3 separate regions of the Homo sapiens genome follow, and regions 1 and 2 are each linked to region 3. The links come from fine-mapping of genetic effects on gene expression. A gene starts in region 3. Each other region holds a variant in brackets. All regions are shown on one strand. Distances are from middle to middle.

Region 1 (5,218 bases), 470 kb after region 3:
GATAAAAATCTGGGCTGGGCCTGGTGGCTCAGGCCTGTAATTCCAACACTTTGGGAGGCCGAAGCAGGAGGACTGCGTGAGCCCAGCAGTTCAAGACCAGCCTGGACAACATAGTGAGACTCTGTCTCTGCCCCTGCCCCTGCAAAAAATTGGCTGTGTGTAGTGGTACACACCTATAGTCCCAGCTACTTGGGAGGCTGAGGTGTGAGGATTGCTTGAGCCTAGGAGCTCCTGGGCTCTATCAGTTTTCCCACCTCTGCCTCCTGAGTAGCTAGAACAACAGCCCTGTGCCTGCATACCCAGCTAATTTTTGTATTTTTTGTACAGATGGGGTCTCACTGTGTTGTCCAGGCTGGTCGTGAACTGCTGGGCTCAAGCGATCCTCCTACCTTGGGCTCCCAGAGTGTTGGAATTACAGGCATGAGCCACTAGGCCCAGTCCAGATTTTTTTTTTTTTTTTCCTGAGACGGAGTCACCCTGGCTGGAGTGCAGTGGCGTGATCTCGGCTCACTGCAACCTCTGCCCTCTGGTTTCAAGTGATTCTCGTGCCTTAGTCTCCCTAGTAGCTGGGATTACAGGTGTGCACTACCACGCCCTGCTAATTTTTGTATTTTTAGTAGAGATGGGGTTTCTCCATGTTGGCCAGGCTGGTCTCGAATTCCTGACCTCAAGTGATCCGCCCGCCTCGTCCTCCCAAAGTGCTGGTGGGATTACAGGCGTGAGCCACTGAACCTGGCCCCAGCCCAGATTTGTATCTTTCTCTGTTACACCTCAGGGCTGACTCACGTGGGGATGGACATAAGACACTCGGAGTTCCTCCCCTGTCTCCACTGTCCTCCCTTTGTTGGCCCTCTCCCTGTGTCTCACGTTTCTTTTTCTTCTGCCTGCCCCGTTCCTCTGCCAGGGTCTCCGTCTCTCCACCGGGGGCTTCATCCTTCCAGGGAGGAGAAGAGGGACTCCAGAATGGCTGAGGAGAAGAAGCTGAAGCTTAGCAACACTGTGCTGCCCTCGGAGTCCATGAAGGTGGTGGCTGAATCCATGGGCATCGCCCAGATTCAGGAGGAGACCTGCCAGCTGCTAACGGATGAGGTCAGCTACCGCATCAAAGAGATCGCACAGGTGACCCGGCCCTTCTGTCCAGCTCTACATTGGGTCCATGTCACCCAGGGCCCCGTCCTTAGGATTTTGGGCTGATGTCTGTTCTGTCACCGACCCCAGGATGCCTTGAAGTTCATGCACATGGGGAAGCGGCAGAAGCTCACCACCAGTGACATTGACTACGCCTTGAAGCTAAAGAATGTCGAGGTGATTTGGGGAGACAGGCGGGGGGGGGGTGAGACGCCATCCTTCAGCCAGGTCTCCTCCGGCTCCCTTCTTACCCATGCCCCTCTCTCCTGCCACAGCCACTCTATGGCTTCCACGCCCAGGAGTTCATTCCTTTCCGCTTCGCCTCTGGTGGGGGCCGGGAGCTTTACTTCTATGAGGAGAAGGAGGTTGATCTGAGCGACATCATCAATACCCCTCTGCCCCGGGTGCCCCTGGACGTCTGCCTCAAAGGTTGGGGGAGGGGAGAGCAGGGTGGCAGGGAGGAGGGAAAGGAGGACAGATGTGTGTAGGTGTGAGGAGCCTCACAATAGAAGAAAAGCTCAGTGTGAGATCCCTGGTGAGTTGCAAGGGGAGCAGGAGTGGAAACACGCTTCCATAGCATGGGGCAACTCCCCAATGTCCATGCGTGGCAATTCACCTTGACACCTGCCTTCCTTGCAGCTCATTGGCTGAGCATCGAGGGCTGCCAGCCAGCTATCCCCGAGAACCCGCCCCCAGGTAACCTCCATGCCCCACCCTCTGGGTCTCTGGGTCCCTTTCCCCTTCCTTCCACCTTTTTTTTTTGAGACAGAGTCTCACTCTGTTGCCTGTGCTGGAGTGCAGGAGTGCTGGAGTGCAGTGGCTCAATCTTGGCTCACTGCAAACCTGTGCCTCCTGGGTTCACGCGATTCTTGTGTCTCAGCCTCCTGAGTAGCTGGGACTACAAGCACACACCACCACGCCCGGCTAATTTTTTGTAATTTTAGTAGACACGAGGTTTCACCATGTTGGCCAGGCTGGTCTCGAACTTCTGACCTGAGGTGATCCACCCGCCTTGGCCTCCCAAAGTGCTGGGATTACAGGCATGAGCCACCGCATCCGGCCTCCTCCCACCTTTTACTTTTCTACTATGCTCATCACCCCTCCCGCTGTGCCTGCTTTCCCACCAGCTCCCAAAGAGCAACAGAAGGCTGAAGCCACAGAACCCCTGAAGTCAGCCAAGCCAGGCCAGGAGGAAGACGGACCCCTGAAGGGCAAAGGTCAAGGGGCCACCACAGCCGACGGCAAAGGTCAGTCCTCCTAGGCTAGGCCTCTCTGGACTCTTGCCCAAAGCCACATGGCCGTTTGTTTTGTTTCCTTTTTTTTTGTTTTTGAGACAGAGTCTCACTCTGTCACCCAGGCTGGAGTGTAGTGGTACGATCTCAGCTCACTGCAACCTCCACCTCCAGGGTTCAAGCGATTCTCCTGCCTCAGCCTCCTGAGTAGCTGGGCTTACAGGTGCCCACCACCACGCCCGGCTAATTTTTGTAATTTTTTTTAGTAGAGACAGGGTTTTGCTATGTTGGCCAGGCTGGTTTCAAACTCAGCCTCATGTGATCCGCCCGCCTTGGCCTCCCAAAGTGCTGGGATTACAGGTGTGAGCCACCATGCCAGGCCTCCATGTGGCCATTGGTGAAGTGGCTGAGGTCAGGGCCAGAGCCCCAGAAAGGATGGGGGAGCCTAAGAAGAAGCCAGGTCTCCTGGGTCTCAGGGGAAGTGGAGGGTTAAGGTTCTTCTGTTA[C/T]TGAGGTTTCTTCTGGAGCTTTCTTTGTCAGACCCACCTTTCCAATCACACAGGGAAAGAGAAGAAGGCGCCGCCCTTGCTGGAGGGGGCCCCCTTGCGACTGAAGCCCCGGAGCATCCACGAGTTGTCTGTGGAGCAGCAGCTCTACTACAAGGAGATCACCGAGGCCTGCGTGGGCTCCTGCGAGGCCAAGAGGGCGGTGAGGGCCCCACCAGCTTGCCCTGGCCCTGAGACGCCTCCTCCTGGGGGCCCTATGAATTGCTCCCCACATCCCACCCCCACCTGACTGGCTTCCCTCCTCCCACAGGAAGCCCTGCAAAGCATTGCCACGGACCCTGGACTGTATCAGATGCTGCCACGGTTCAGTACCTTTATCTCGGAGGGGGTGAGAGCATGAGGTTCCACAGTGCAGGGACGGCAGTGGAAGCTCCTGTGAGGGTCTCCCTGCCCCATGCCCAGCACTTCTCCCTCCCACAGGTCCGTGTGAACGTGGTTCAGAACAACCTGGCCCTACTCATCTACCTGATGCGTATGGTGAAAGCGCTGATGGACAACCCCACGCTCTATCTAGAAAAATACGTGAGTGATCCTGCCCATCCTCCCTTCCAGGGACTAGGGACCCTGCTGCCACCAACAGGAAGTCAGTGGTCAGCAGTGGCTCACACCTGAAATCCCAGCAACTTTGGGAGGCCGAAGTGGGAGGATTGCTTGAGCTCAGGAGTTTGAGGACAGCCTGAGGACAGTAGTGAGACTGCTATCTCTACAAAAAAAATTAACCAAAACAAAATTAGCCAGGCATGGTGGTGCACACCTGTGGCCCCAGCTACCTGGGAGGCTGAGATGGGAGAATTGCTTGAGCCCGGGAGATTGATGCTGCAGTTAGCCATGATTGTGTCCCTGCACACCAGCCTGGGTGACAGAGCAAGACTTTATCTCAAGCAGACAAACAAAACCAGAATCAGCTGTCCCGCCCTTTCTCCCTTAGGTCCATGAGCTGATTCCAGCTGTGATGACCTGCATCGTGAGCAGACAGTTGTGCCTGCGACCAGATGTGGACAATCACTGGGCACTCCGAGACTTTGCTGCCCGCCTGGTGGCCCAGATCTGCAAGCATTTTAGCACAACCACTAACAACATCCAGTCCCGGATCACCAAGACCTTCACCAAGGTGAGCCAGGAAAACTTGAGCGTCATTTGCTTCATCACTGGCCACCTCTGGTTGGGGGAAGTCACACTGGAAACAAGGGGGCAGAGGGAAGAGGGACTGGAACTTGTGGGGGTCTAAGGGTCTTGAGGCTTGTCTGTAATACCTTTTTTTTTTTTTTTTGAGATGGAGTCTCGCTCTTGCCCAGGCTGGAGTGCAGTGGTGCAATCTCTGCTGACCGCACCCTCTGCCTCCTGGGTTCAAGCGATTCTTCTCCCTCAGACTCTTGAGTACTTGGGATTACAGGCACCTGCCACCACAACTGGCTAATTTTTTTGTTTTTGTTTTTTTGAGATGGAGTTTCGCTCTTCTTGCCCAGGCTGGAGTGCAATGGTGCAATCTTGGCTTACCACAACCTCCGCCTCCTGGGTTCCAATGATTCTCCTGCCTCAGCCTCCCGAGTAGCTGGGATTACAGGCATGTGCCGCCACACCCAGCTAATTTTGTGTTTTTAGTAGAGACGGGGTTTCTCCATGTTGGTCAGGCTGCTCTAGAACTCCCGACCTCAGGTGATCTGCCTGCCTTGGCCTCCCAAAGTGCTGGGATTACGGGTATGAGCCACTGCACCTGGCCACAACTGGCTAATTTTTGTATTTTTAGTAGAGACAGAGTTTCACCATGTTGACTAGGGTGGTCTGGAACTCCTGACCTCAGGTGATCTGCCTGCCTCGGCCTCCCAAAGTGCTGGGATTACAGGTGTGAGCCACCACGTCTGGCCTCATTGTAATGTCTTAATGATTTACAAGGAAAGTGTCTATGAAAGACTTAGGTCCCTGTCAATCATCCTTTCAGACCCCTTCATCTTAGTTTATTTCCTTCCCCTTACAGAGCTGGGTGGACGAGAAGACGCCCTGGACGACTCGTTATGGCTCCATCGCAGGCTTGGCTGAGCTGGGACACGATGTTAGGCCTCTGGGAGGAAGAAATGGGGGAGGGGACACAGTCATGAGGTTATAGAGGGCACTGTACCCCCATCTGGGAGACCCTGGTGACCCTCCGGCTTTTGCTTGTCCTTTTCCCTTCTAACAGGTTATCAAGACTCTGATTCTGCCCCGGCTGCAGCAGGAAGGGGAGCGGATCCGCAGTGTGCTGGACGGCCCTGTGCTGAGCAACATTGACCGGATTGGAGCAGACCATGTGCAGAGCCT
Region 2 (5,218 bases), 68 kb after region 3:
AGGCCAGGAGTTTGAGACCAGGCTGACCAACATAGCGAAACCCCGTCTCTACTAAAAATACCAAAAAAAAAAAAAATTAGCTGGGCGTGGCAGTGGGCGCCTGTAATCCCAGCTACTTGGGAGGCTGAGGCAGGAGAATCGCTTGAAACCAGGAGGCGGAGGTTGCAGTGAGCCGAGATCGTACCATTGTACTCCAGCCTGGGTGACAAGAGTGAAACTCCGTCTCTCTCTCTCTCTCTCTCTCTCTCTCTCTCTCTCTATATATATATATATATATACACACACACACACATACTTACACACATATACGTATATATATGTGTATACATATACACACATATACATATATACTTATATATATATGTATACATATATGTGTGTGTATATATATACACACACATACATAAAATCCTAAATCTCTTTCTAACTAAAATGACAAATACAGAGCCTCCCTGACTTATGATGGAACTGTGTCCTGATTAATTCATTATAAAATCAAGAAAATCCTTAAGTCAAACCATCCTAGCTCCCTGACTTATGATGGGACTGAGTCCTGATTAACTCATTGTAAAGTTAAGAAAATCATTAAGTCAAACCATCCTAAATTGGGGGACTGTCTGTGTTCAGAGGATGGTGGGATGGGAAGTGTGTGTGTGTGTGTGTGTGTGTGTGTGACTGGTGTGTGTGTGTGTGACTGGTGTGTGTGTGTGTGACTGGTGTGTGTGACTGGGAAGTGAAAGAGAGCTAACCCTCACTGTCCACACGGTAAGTCAATAGATAATAGGTAATACTGAAAAAAAAAACCAAGAGCTAAAGACATAACTGTATTATTTAGACATATAAATATAAACCAAATAACAAAAGATCAGCTATAAGAACTGAAAAAATGCTTACTTCTGAGGAGCTGAAAATGGAGGAGAGTTGAAAAGGATCTTCTCTTTTTTCTAACATGTCTTTGGAAGTATTTAACTCTTTAAATTACGACCACGTCCAAATTTATTAAAAATAAGACACAAATTTGGCTGGGCGTGGTGACTCATGCCTATACTTCCAGCACTTTGGGGGGCCAAGGCAGGAAGATCGCTTGAGGCCAGGGGTTAGACGCCAGGCTGGGCAACACAACAAGACTCCATCACTACAAAAAATAAAAAGTAAAATAATTAGCCAGTGTGGTAGCCAGCTACTAGGGAGGCTGAGGTGGGAGGATTGTTTGAGCCCAGGAGTTTAAGGCTGCAGTGAGCCATGATCATGCCACTGCACTACTGCAGCCTGGGCAACAGAGTGAGACCCTGTTTCCAAACAAAACAAAACAAAACAAAACAAAACCCAACCTAAAACATAAGTTTTAAAAAATGAAAAGATAGGCTGGCCGCGGTGGCTCATGCCTGTATTCCCAGCACTTTGAGAGGCCGAGGCGGGCAGATCACCTGAGGTTGGGAGTTCAAGACCAGCCTGACCAACATGGAGAAACCCCATCTCTACTAAAAATACAAAATTACCCGGGCGGTGGTGGTGCATGCCTGTAATCTCAGCTACTCAGGAGGATGAGGCAGGAGAATTGCTTGAACCCAGGAGGCAGAGGTTGCAGTGAGCTGAGATCGCGCCATTGCACTCTAGCCTGGGCAACAAGAGCGAAACTCCATCTTAAAAAATAAATAAATATGAAAAGATAAATTAATCAGATTTTCTTTCTTGGGCCTTTTAGGTGAGAAATGTGGAACCGGGTAGAAGGAGACAAACACTAACAAGTGGTAGGTGGTGGCTAAATCACATTGACACTTGGAGGGAGAGGGAACATTCACCAATTCCTTTTTTTTTTTTTTTGAGATGGAGTCTCGCTCTGTCGCCCAGGCTGGAGAGCAGTGGCACAATCTCGTCTCACTGCAACCTCTGCCTCCCAGGTTCAAGCGATTCTCCTGCCTTAGCCTCCCTAGTAGTTGGGACTATAGGCGTGTGCCACCACACCCAGCTAATTTTTTTGTATTTTTAGTAGAGACGGGGTTTCACCGTGTTAGCCAGGATGGTATCCATCTCCTGACCTTGTGATCTGCCCGCCTCAGCCTCCCAAAGTGTTGGGATTACAGGTGTGAGCCACCGTGTCTGGCCCATTCGCCAATTCCTATTGTGAAGCACCTAGAGTTTTTCCTGGACTCAGAACTTCCTTGGGTTTCAACCTACATGAATTCTGATTCCACTATGGCTTAGTTCTAAGAGATC[A/T]GGTCTCCCTTATCTATCTCTTTCTCTTACTTGAGCTTTGTTGAGTGAACTTTTTTGTTTCTTGCAGTGAAAAAAGCCCTGCTAAAATAGAGGTAGATGCTGCTTCCAGAATTCCTTATTAGTTGAAAGTATAAAATGTAGCAAGTTGGCCTGATGCAGTGGCTCATTCCTGTAATTCCAGCCCTTTGGTAGGCCAAGACAGGATCACTTGAGCTCCGGTGTCCAAGACCAGCATGGGCAACATAGGGAGACCCACATCTCTACAAATAATTTAAAAATAATATGACTGTGACAAATGATTGGAAAGAAAAAAAATTTAAAAATTAATAAATAATTTTTAAGGCCAGGCGTGGTGGCTCACACCTGTAATCCCAGCACTTTGGGAGGCTGAGGCAGGTGGATCATGAGGTCAGGAGATCGAGACCATCCTGACTAACACGGTGAAACCCTGTCTCTACTAAAAATACAAAAAAATTAGCTGGGTGTGGTGGCGGGTGCCTATAGTCCCAGCAACTCGGGAGGCTGAGGCAGGAGAATGGCGTGAACCCAGGAAGTGGAGCTTGCAGTGAGCCGAGATCGCGCCACTGCACTCCAGCCGGGATGACAGAGCGAGACTTTGTCTCAAACAAACAAACAAAAATAATAATAATTTTTAAAAAGAAATAAAAATTAGCTGGGTGTGGTGGTGTGTACCTGTGGTCCCAGGTACTCCACAGGCTGAGGTGGGAGGCTGAGGTGGGAGGATCACTTGAGCCCTGGAGGTTGAGGCAGCAGTGGGCCATGATCATGCCACTGCACTCCAGCTTGGGTGACAGAGCAAGACCCTGTCTCAAAAAATAAAATAAATAAAATGCAGCAATTTGTCCTTCATTCTCTGCCCTCCCATCCCCCACATTTTGAAGGAGATCTTATATTACTAAGGAATATTCATTGCTAATTATTATTCATTACTAATGAATATTCATTACAACTTACTATTCATTACTAATGATTTTCTAAGCTCTACTGATGTGACAGGTCCTTGCATTTCTGCCAGTTATATCTCACAACCCCATTACATCCACGTCTCAGCAAGACCTGGGGGATCTTTGATACTTCAAGTCCAAGGCAAATCAGCATGATATTGTCAATGACGATCAGGATGACATCCTACAGAGGAGTCAGTTAGTGTGATCAACCATCCCAGTTTGCCAGGGACCTGGGGGCTTCCTAGGATGCAGAACTTTCAGTGCCCGAATAACAGTTTCAGGTAAACCTAGATGGCTGGTCCCTAGGTAAAGTGGACTAGGTCCCTGTGAAAGGATACTGCTACCCCTTCCAGGTAAAGATAAATAGCTGGGATGGGTAAAGAGAAACAGAGGCCAGGTGCAATGGTTCATGCCTATAATCCCAGCACTTTGGGAGGCTAAGGAGGGAGAATTGCTTGGTGCTAGGAGTTGGGAGACCAGTCTGGGCCACATAGTGAAATGCCATCTCTTTAAAAAAAAAAATTAAAAAAATTAAAAAAAAATTTAGCCAGGTGCAGTGGCATGTGCCTGCAGTTTTTTATTTGTTTGTTTGGGTTTTTTTGTTTGTTTTGATTTGTTTTGAGACGGAGTCTCTCTGTTACCTAGGCTGGAGTGCAATGGCGTGATCTCGGCTCACTGCAACCTCTGCCTCCTGGGTTCAAGCAATTCTCCCGCCTCAGCCTCCCGAGTAGCTGGGAATACAGGTGCCCGCCACCACGCCCTAATTTTTGTATTTTTTTTTTTTTAGTAGAGACGGGGTTTAACCATGTTGGTCAGGCTGGTCTCAAACTGTTGACCTCAGGTGGTCCACCCACTTTGGCCTCCCAAAGTGCTGGGATTACAGGCATGAGCCACTGTGTCCATCCGTGCCTGTGGGTTTGAGGCTGTGATGAGCTGTGGTTGTGCCTCTGTACTCCACTGTGGGCAACAGAGTGAGACCCTTTCTCTAAATTGAAGACAGCATATCAAGTACCCACGTAATTAAGCCCAAGGTAATCCTCCATTATTTTTCAAGTCCTGTCCATCTTTGGTACTAACCAGCCTGGAGAAACAGCCTCCAAGGTTCCCATCCTCCTCTTCAGGAACTCTGGGTCAAGAAACTTATTCAGGGCCAGGCACAGTGGCTCACACTTGTAATTCCAACACTTTGGGAGGCCAAGGCAGGAGGAGACCAGCCTGGGCAGCAGAGTGAGATCCCATCTCTACGAAAAAAAAAAAAAGAGAGAAGGGATGGTTAAGGCTAGAAGGACTGTGACTATGTAGTGTGTTGACTTGACTTAGATCTTTGTTCATTAAGCTAAGGAATTATCTTGTTTTACAAACCAAGCTGAACCCAGGCCCGCCCATCTGCTCTGTTCCTGCCACTACTTCAAACAGAAGCCAAAACCTCAACTCAGTATGTTAGGCCATTTCTTGCAGCAAATTTACCACACCTACTTGGCTTTTGCCTTTTTGTGGCCACAGCCAGGGGTGATATTCAAAATATTTCACAGCTGGTTACCACATGGCCGGCAGCCATTTAGAACAGACACTGATTTTAGCACTAAGTCCTGTTCCTGGAGATCAACAGCTATGCTGGGGATTAACTCTTTAGTTGCTGAAAGAGAGGGAGGTCTGGCCAGCACGGTGGCTCATGCTTGTAATCACAGCACTTTGGGAGGCTGAGGTGGGCTGATCACTTGAGGTCAGGAGTTCAAGACCAGCCTGGCCAACATGGTGAAACTCCATCTCTACTAAAAAAGCTAGCCAGGCGTGGTGGTGTGCACCTGTAATCCCAGCAACTCAGAAGGCTGAGGCAGGAGAATTGCTTGTACCCAGGAAGCAGAGGTTGCAGTGAGCCAAGATCGTGCCACTGCACTCCAGCTTGGATGACAGAGCAAAACTCCGTCTCAAAAAATAAAAAATAAAAATAAGAAGAGGGAGGTCTGGGGGCCTGGAGGCAGGTGGATGGGGTGGGGAACTCAGGAGGCTGTTGGCAGTAATTTACCAACTGC
Region 3 (5,218 bases):
CCTGCCAGACCACCAGCCCTCACCACACAGTGTCACAGATCCGTTCATTGACTGCACCAGACTGACCACCCAAATTCCCTTATGTATGGTGCCTAGCCATGGCTAGGCTGGGATGCCTGAGATGGAATTTTAATTCTTCAGCAACTACTCAGGAATATCAACCTCTGAGATGTGAACTAAGGAGAAAGCAACTTCAGTGACTTATTTCTGGGCAACCTACCACATAGGGAGGGGACTGCATTAGGGACTCATGCCACTTAGAAAGGAAGATCTCCAAGTAGACAGAAAGGTATTTTCCATTCCTCTTGCATTTGGGTCCCCTTTATCCACTCCATTTCACCCCAGGAGGCAAACGAGAGGTTGTGAATAGAAAAAGTCCACTGTGGGCCAGGCTTTGTGGCTCACGCTTATAATCCCAGCACTTCGGGAGGCCGAGGTGGGAGCATTGCTTGAGCCCAGGAGTTTGAGATCAGCCTGGGCAACATAGTAGGACCCTGTCTCTACAAAAAATACAATTAGCTGGCATGGTGGTGCGTGCTTGTAGTCCCAGTTACTCGGGAGGCTGAGGTGGGAGGTTGAGGCTGCAGTGAGCTGCGATCAAGCCACTGCACTCCAGCCTGGGCAACAGAGCGACTCTGTCTCAAAAGAAAGAAAAAGTCCACTGTGGGCCGGGTGCGGTGGCTCACGCCTGTGATCCCAGTACTTTGGGAGGCAGAGGCAGGATCGCTTGAGGTCAAAAGTTTGAGACCAGCCTGGGCAACATAGCAAAACCCCATCTCTACAAAAATTGAAAATAAATTAGCCAGGTGCAGTGGTGCCGCCCGTGGTCCCAGCTACTTGGGAGGCTGAGGCAGGAGGATCACTTGAGCCCAGGCATTCAAGGCTGCAGTGAGCCATGACTGCACCACTGCACTCCAGCCTGGGCGACAGAATCAGACCTTCTTAAAAAAAAAAAAAAAAAGGCCGGGCGCGGTGGCTCACGCCTGTAATGCCAGCACTTTGGGAGGCCGAGGAGGGCATATTGCCTGAGCTCCTGAGTTTGCGACCAGCCTGGGCAACACGGTGAAACCCCGTCTCTACTAAAATACAAAAAATTAGCCGGGTGTGGTGGCGGGCGCCTGTAGTCCCAGCTACTCGGGAGGCTGAGGCAGGAGAATTGCTTGAACCCGGACAGTGGAGGTTGCTGTGAGCCGAGATCGCGCCACTGCACTCCAGCCTGGGCGACTGAGCGAGACTCCATCTCAAAAAATAAAAAAATAAAAAGAGGAAGGGAACGGAAGGGAGAGGGAGGGAGGGAGGAAGAGAGGAAGGGAGTGAAAACATCCACTGTGAAAACTGAGGGAGCGGGAAAGGGCTGTGCGTGGAGGATCCAGAGACCTGGTTTCTAGAGCAAGCCAGCTGTCAGGAACTTGCTGTTCGCTCTTGCTAACGCATCAACTTCCCTCTGCCTCAGTTTCTGCATTCGTAGCACCAAGGGCGTGTTCTAGGCGGTGAGATCCTTTCTAAGCCTCTAAAACCCCGTGGTCTGGTCCCCTCTCCATTCCTGTCCAGGGGAGCTCCTCGGGTGAGACGGCAGACCGTGCAACGCTGCACCTACACCCTCCCTCCTCGAGCTGGGCATCTCCAGGCTCTGGGAAGCCCCCCGCCCGCCCCCAGCCCGGGGGTCCCGAGACCCCTGCCAGAGGCTTCACAGTCGGAGGTCCCCCCGCTGCCCCTTCAGCTGCGACAACCGCCAGTGCACTGGCCTCAAGCAGTCGCCCGAATCCCCTCAAGCCCTGGACGCCGGCTAGCCCCCTAACACGTCCAGCTCGCACTCGCCACTGCAGCGGCGAACTGCGTTCCCGGCCGGCCAGGGGCTCCGCGTTCATTCTTAACCTCAGTCTTAAAGTTCTAGCTCACCCGCCTCCTCCTTAGCAAAGGGACCGCCTTCTCGCCCATGCTATTGGTAGGTAGAGCCGTCCCTCAGAGAAGAGGCAGGTCCAGATTCCCTTCGGAGGCTCTAATTGGCCTTCTTGACAGTCACTCGCCTGTATCTGGCTTACGATTGGTCTTTGGGGGACGAGGACTAGGCACCCCCTGCTTGCGGTCCCTCGGCCCGTTTTCCTGCTAGTGGAGTGCCGGTGTCCCCTCCTCTTGGTTGGACCTGATTGGCTCCACCTCCCGATCTGAGCATTGTGATTGGGTGCAGCTGCGCTGGGCGGGACGGCCTGGAGCGTCGGCCGTTGGCGAGCGCTCTATCCTTGTTCCCCTCCCTTCTCTCGTCAGACTCCGGCGCCGGAGCTCCACCCCCACTGACGGGTTCTGATTGGCCGCTTCTGACGCGTCTCGGGGCCACGATTGGTCCGTCCGGTCCCGGACACCGCTCCCTCCCCCTTGAGGCAACTACGGCGGCTCCAAGGAGGGGGTGGGGGAAGGAGGGACGGCCGGTCCCGTCAGTCAGGCAGCGGGAGCCGCCGGGAGCGGATGGCGGCGGCCGTAGCGGCTCCACTCGCCGCCGGGGGTGAGGAGGCGGCAGCCACGACCTCCGTGCCCGGGTCTCCAGGTCTGCCGGGGAGACGCAGTGCAGAGCGGGCCCTAGAGGAGGCCGTGGCCACCGGGACCCTGAACCTGTCTAACCGGCGCTTGAAGCACTTCCCCCGGGGCGCGGCCCGTAGCTACGACCTGTCAGACATCACCCAGGCTGGTGAGTGCAGCCGGGCCCCGGGCCCAACCGGGTCCCTCATTTGCATAGCCCCACCCCGGGCCCCGCCCGGCCCGGGAGTCGGGCCCGCCCCTTCACCTGGCGGCCAGGGTTGCTGCCCCTCCTGATTGCCCTAAACCTGCAGCCATCCTCTCCCATCTTTGAGAACCCCCTAGACAATGAACGTGCTTCTCGTTTGCACAGAACGCCCTGCGCCTCCGAGCGTTGGGAGAGATTCCTCCTTTCTCTTTATTTGCATATCTGCGCACCTGTAGGATGGTCCCGCCCCTCACCTGGTTGGCTTATTTACATGATCTCTTAACCTCAGCTCCAATCGGTCTATGAAGCAGTCCCCACGAGCTCCTCTAATAACTGCTTTCTCTCCCTCTTCATCTACACCTCTTAACCCCCGTCCCACCGAGATCCGAGCAGCCCCGGGCACCCCCTTCCCAGTGACTGGCCCCTAAGCCCGAGGTTTCTGCTTTCTGTGCCGCAACCCCGCCCCCTAAGGTCCTGGCCCTCTCCACTGTCCACGCAGCTCTCCAGCCTATGGGAAAGAAACAAATCTCTACCTCCCCTCACTCTTTTCTCCCTGAGCTCTTCCGCCTATTATCCCCAACCGGCTTATCTGAGATTCCTCCTCCTCCTTCCTAAGCCTGTGAGGTCACTGTGGAGCCTGTGACCTCATAGGGATCTTAGAATTCCCATTTCAGTTTCTGCTTTCCCCCGGGGGAGGGACTTGAGGCCGTTGCTGGAGGGAAGGAAATCTTATCTCCTAGCTGGGAGTGCTGGCCAGCTAGAGACTGTCCTTCCACGCCTCCACCCGCAGGATCTGTCCAACCATGCACCCTCCACCCTGGTGTCTGTGGATGGTAGGGGGTGGGGGACTTAACTGTGACAGGTGAGTCAAGCCTCAGCTACTCAGGAGGCAGCCTATGACCTTGGGCCGGCAGCTGGGGGTGGGGATCAGGATCAGGGAGGAGGACTGCATTCCCGAAGCCTCACCCCAGCCCAGGCCTCTTCCTCCTCTCATCTGCACGGTGGGGGACCAGAGCTGGAGGATAGTGCTTACTTCTCCCTAAGCAGGTGCCTGCTCACCTGGGAACACTCAGGCCGGCACTGGCACACATCCTCTTCCCTCTTCTGGGGAGAACCAGTCGAAACCTCCCCACTGATCTCGCCTGCTCTGCAACACTTGAGATGGGGAATGAGTGAGCTCCAGGAGCCATTCCTGCCCCTTACAGCCCTGTTCCCTCCCACCCCCACCTAACCCCACACTCCAGATTGACCTCAGCAGCTGTGTGACACTCACTGTCTGTTCCCTTCCCCTCCCCCTTGGTTGTTTTTTGACAAAGACCAAATGTTATTCTTTACTTCCTTAGGCTGTCTCTCCCTGTGTGGACTCTTGGGGAAAACTACCCGGAGCTCCCCGGCCCCTCCCAGCTCCCGCCCCCGGCCCCCTCCTCCCCCAGCATTCCGGCTCAGGGTGCAGCCGTGCTCCTGTGAGCTTGGGGGGGGGTCGGAAATCCCAGCTTCCCAAGAACCCTCCTCTGCCCCACTCTCTACACAGGGCCCAGGTTCTAGGCCAAGTGGGGTCCCTCTTGTCCAGAATTCTCTCCTCTGTCCCCTCTCCGCAAGCAGGGACAGAAAGGGGAAGTGACAAAAACATACAGTTGCCCATACCCTGCCCTCCATCTCTCCTCGCCCTCCAAGCAGACGAAAAGCATCAGTGCCTTGCTGCCCGGACTGCCTTGAGCCTTCCCCTCCCGTCTCCCATCTCTTTCTGAGTGTCTTCGCTGCGTGTCGCCTAGTCTTGGGTCCCTGATCTCCCTTGGACTAGGCTCCCTGGGGTGATAGTAGGAAGAATCCTGAGGTGGCGGGGAGGGGCCATCTTGCAAAGGAGAAGTGCAGCTCATTCTCTCCCAGACCACATCCTGTGCCCCCAGTGCCCTGCCTCCTGCCTGAGCTCCCTTCCGCTCCTAGCTTTTGTCCCCGCCACCGCCTACCCCATCAGAACTCTGAGAACTCGGTCTCCACCCCCTTCGTCCACATGCACACACACAAACACATTTGCAGAGAAAGCGGGCAGGTGGAGGCGAGGCTGGGAGGGGCAAATGCCATCCCCCCACCCTCTCCAGAACGGTCATCTCTGAGGCCAGGGCTTCTGTCTGTGCACCAGGGCTGGGCAGAGAGGAAGAGAAAGGGGTCCCGGGGCATCAGGCTGTCATCCACCCTGGTAAACACGGGGCCTACCAGAGCCAGAACCTGACAGATTGTTTCTACTTCATTTCCTGTCACAAGACTCATTTCCTTGGGGGATATACCCGGCTTCTCTCCTCTGCTTGCTTTTGCTGGCCTGCCCTTCCCTGAGAAGGGCCCTTGGAGAAGCTCACCAGGTCTGTGGCCTGGGACTCCGCCTCGCGGGCCCTGGGCCCCTCCCAGGACAGGCTGGGCCGAGGAAACAGAAAGGCAGGCTTCTCCAGGTCTAAGCCGTTAGTGGGTCCGTGCTACAGGGAATCCCAAGGCTGCCAGCCTCCG

Alleles and levels. Alleles are on the strand shown, and positions count from the first base shown. SD is a standard deviation of normalised expression in the study named. Not every link is listed here.
As copies of A replace T in region 2, the expression in esophagus mucosa of the gene that starts at base 2,435 in region 3 goes up (small effect, 0.25 SD a copy in GTEx).

Evidence for each region. PIP is the estimated chance that this variant, and not a neighbour inherited with it, causes the effect. A credible set is the group of variants that fine-mapping cannot tell apart.
Region 1: its variant is the best candidate, but not a certain one, in a credible set for the expression of LRCH4 in whole blood (TOPMed, PIP 0.84).
Region 2: its variant is the best candidate, but not a certain one, in a credible set for the expression of LRCH4 in esophagus mucosa (GTEx, PIP 0.65).

What each region holds. Positions count from the first base shown.
Region 1 is chr7:100,109,955-100,115,172 of GRCh38, reverse strand. TAF6 (TATA-box binding protein associated factor 6) reads left to right here. Exons shown (of 15, transcript NM_139315.3): 2 at 905-1,119; 3 at 1,219-1,305; 4 at 1,404-1,557; 5 at 1,768-1,824; 6 at 2,256-2,375; 7 at 2,920-3,065; 8 at 3,174-3,251; 9 at 3,344-3,445; 10 at 3,852-4,034; 11 at 4,899-4,973; 12 at 5,100-5,218. The coding sequence starts at 964. Among named protein-coding and RNA genes, the nearest start is that of TAF6, 6.8 kb to the left of the region's middle. RefSeq lists a silencer at 4,320-4,547. The variant C/T (reference allele first, on the strand shown) is at 2,867.
Region 2 is chr7:100,515,801-100,521,018 of GRCh38, reverse strand. It overlaps LOC107986829 (a long non-coding RNA gene), which reads right to left. Exons shown (of 4, transcript XR_001745301.2): 3 at 4,263-4,426; 4 at 1-1,135. Among named protein-coding and RNA genes, the nearest start is that of AGFG2, 21 kb to the left of the region's middle. The variant A/T (reference allele first, on the strand shown) is at 2,218.
Region 3 is chr7:100,583,346-100,588,563 of GRCh38, reverse strand. LRCH4 (leucine rich repeats and calponin homology domain containing 4) reads left to right here and starts at 2,435. Exons shown (of 18, transcript NM_002319.5): 1 at 2,435-2,683. The coding sequence starts at 2,464. It overlaps FBXO24 (F-box protein 24), which reads right to left and starts at 2,236. Exons shown (of 10, transcript NM_033506.3): 1 at 1,900-2,236. The coding sequence starts at 1,938. RefSeq lists silencers at 1,558-1,677, 2,438-2,867, 2,908-2,957 and enhancers at 3,099-3,612, 3,613-4,126, 4,392-4,551, 4,524-4,818, 4,272-4,960.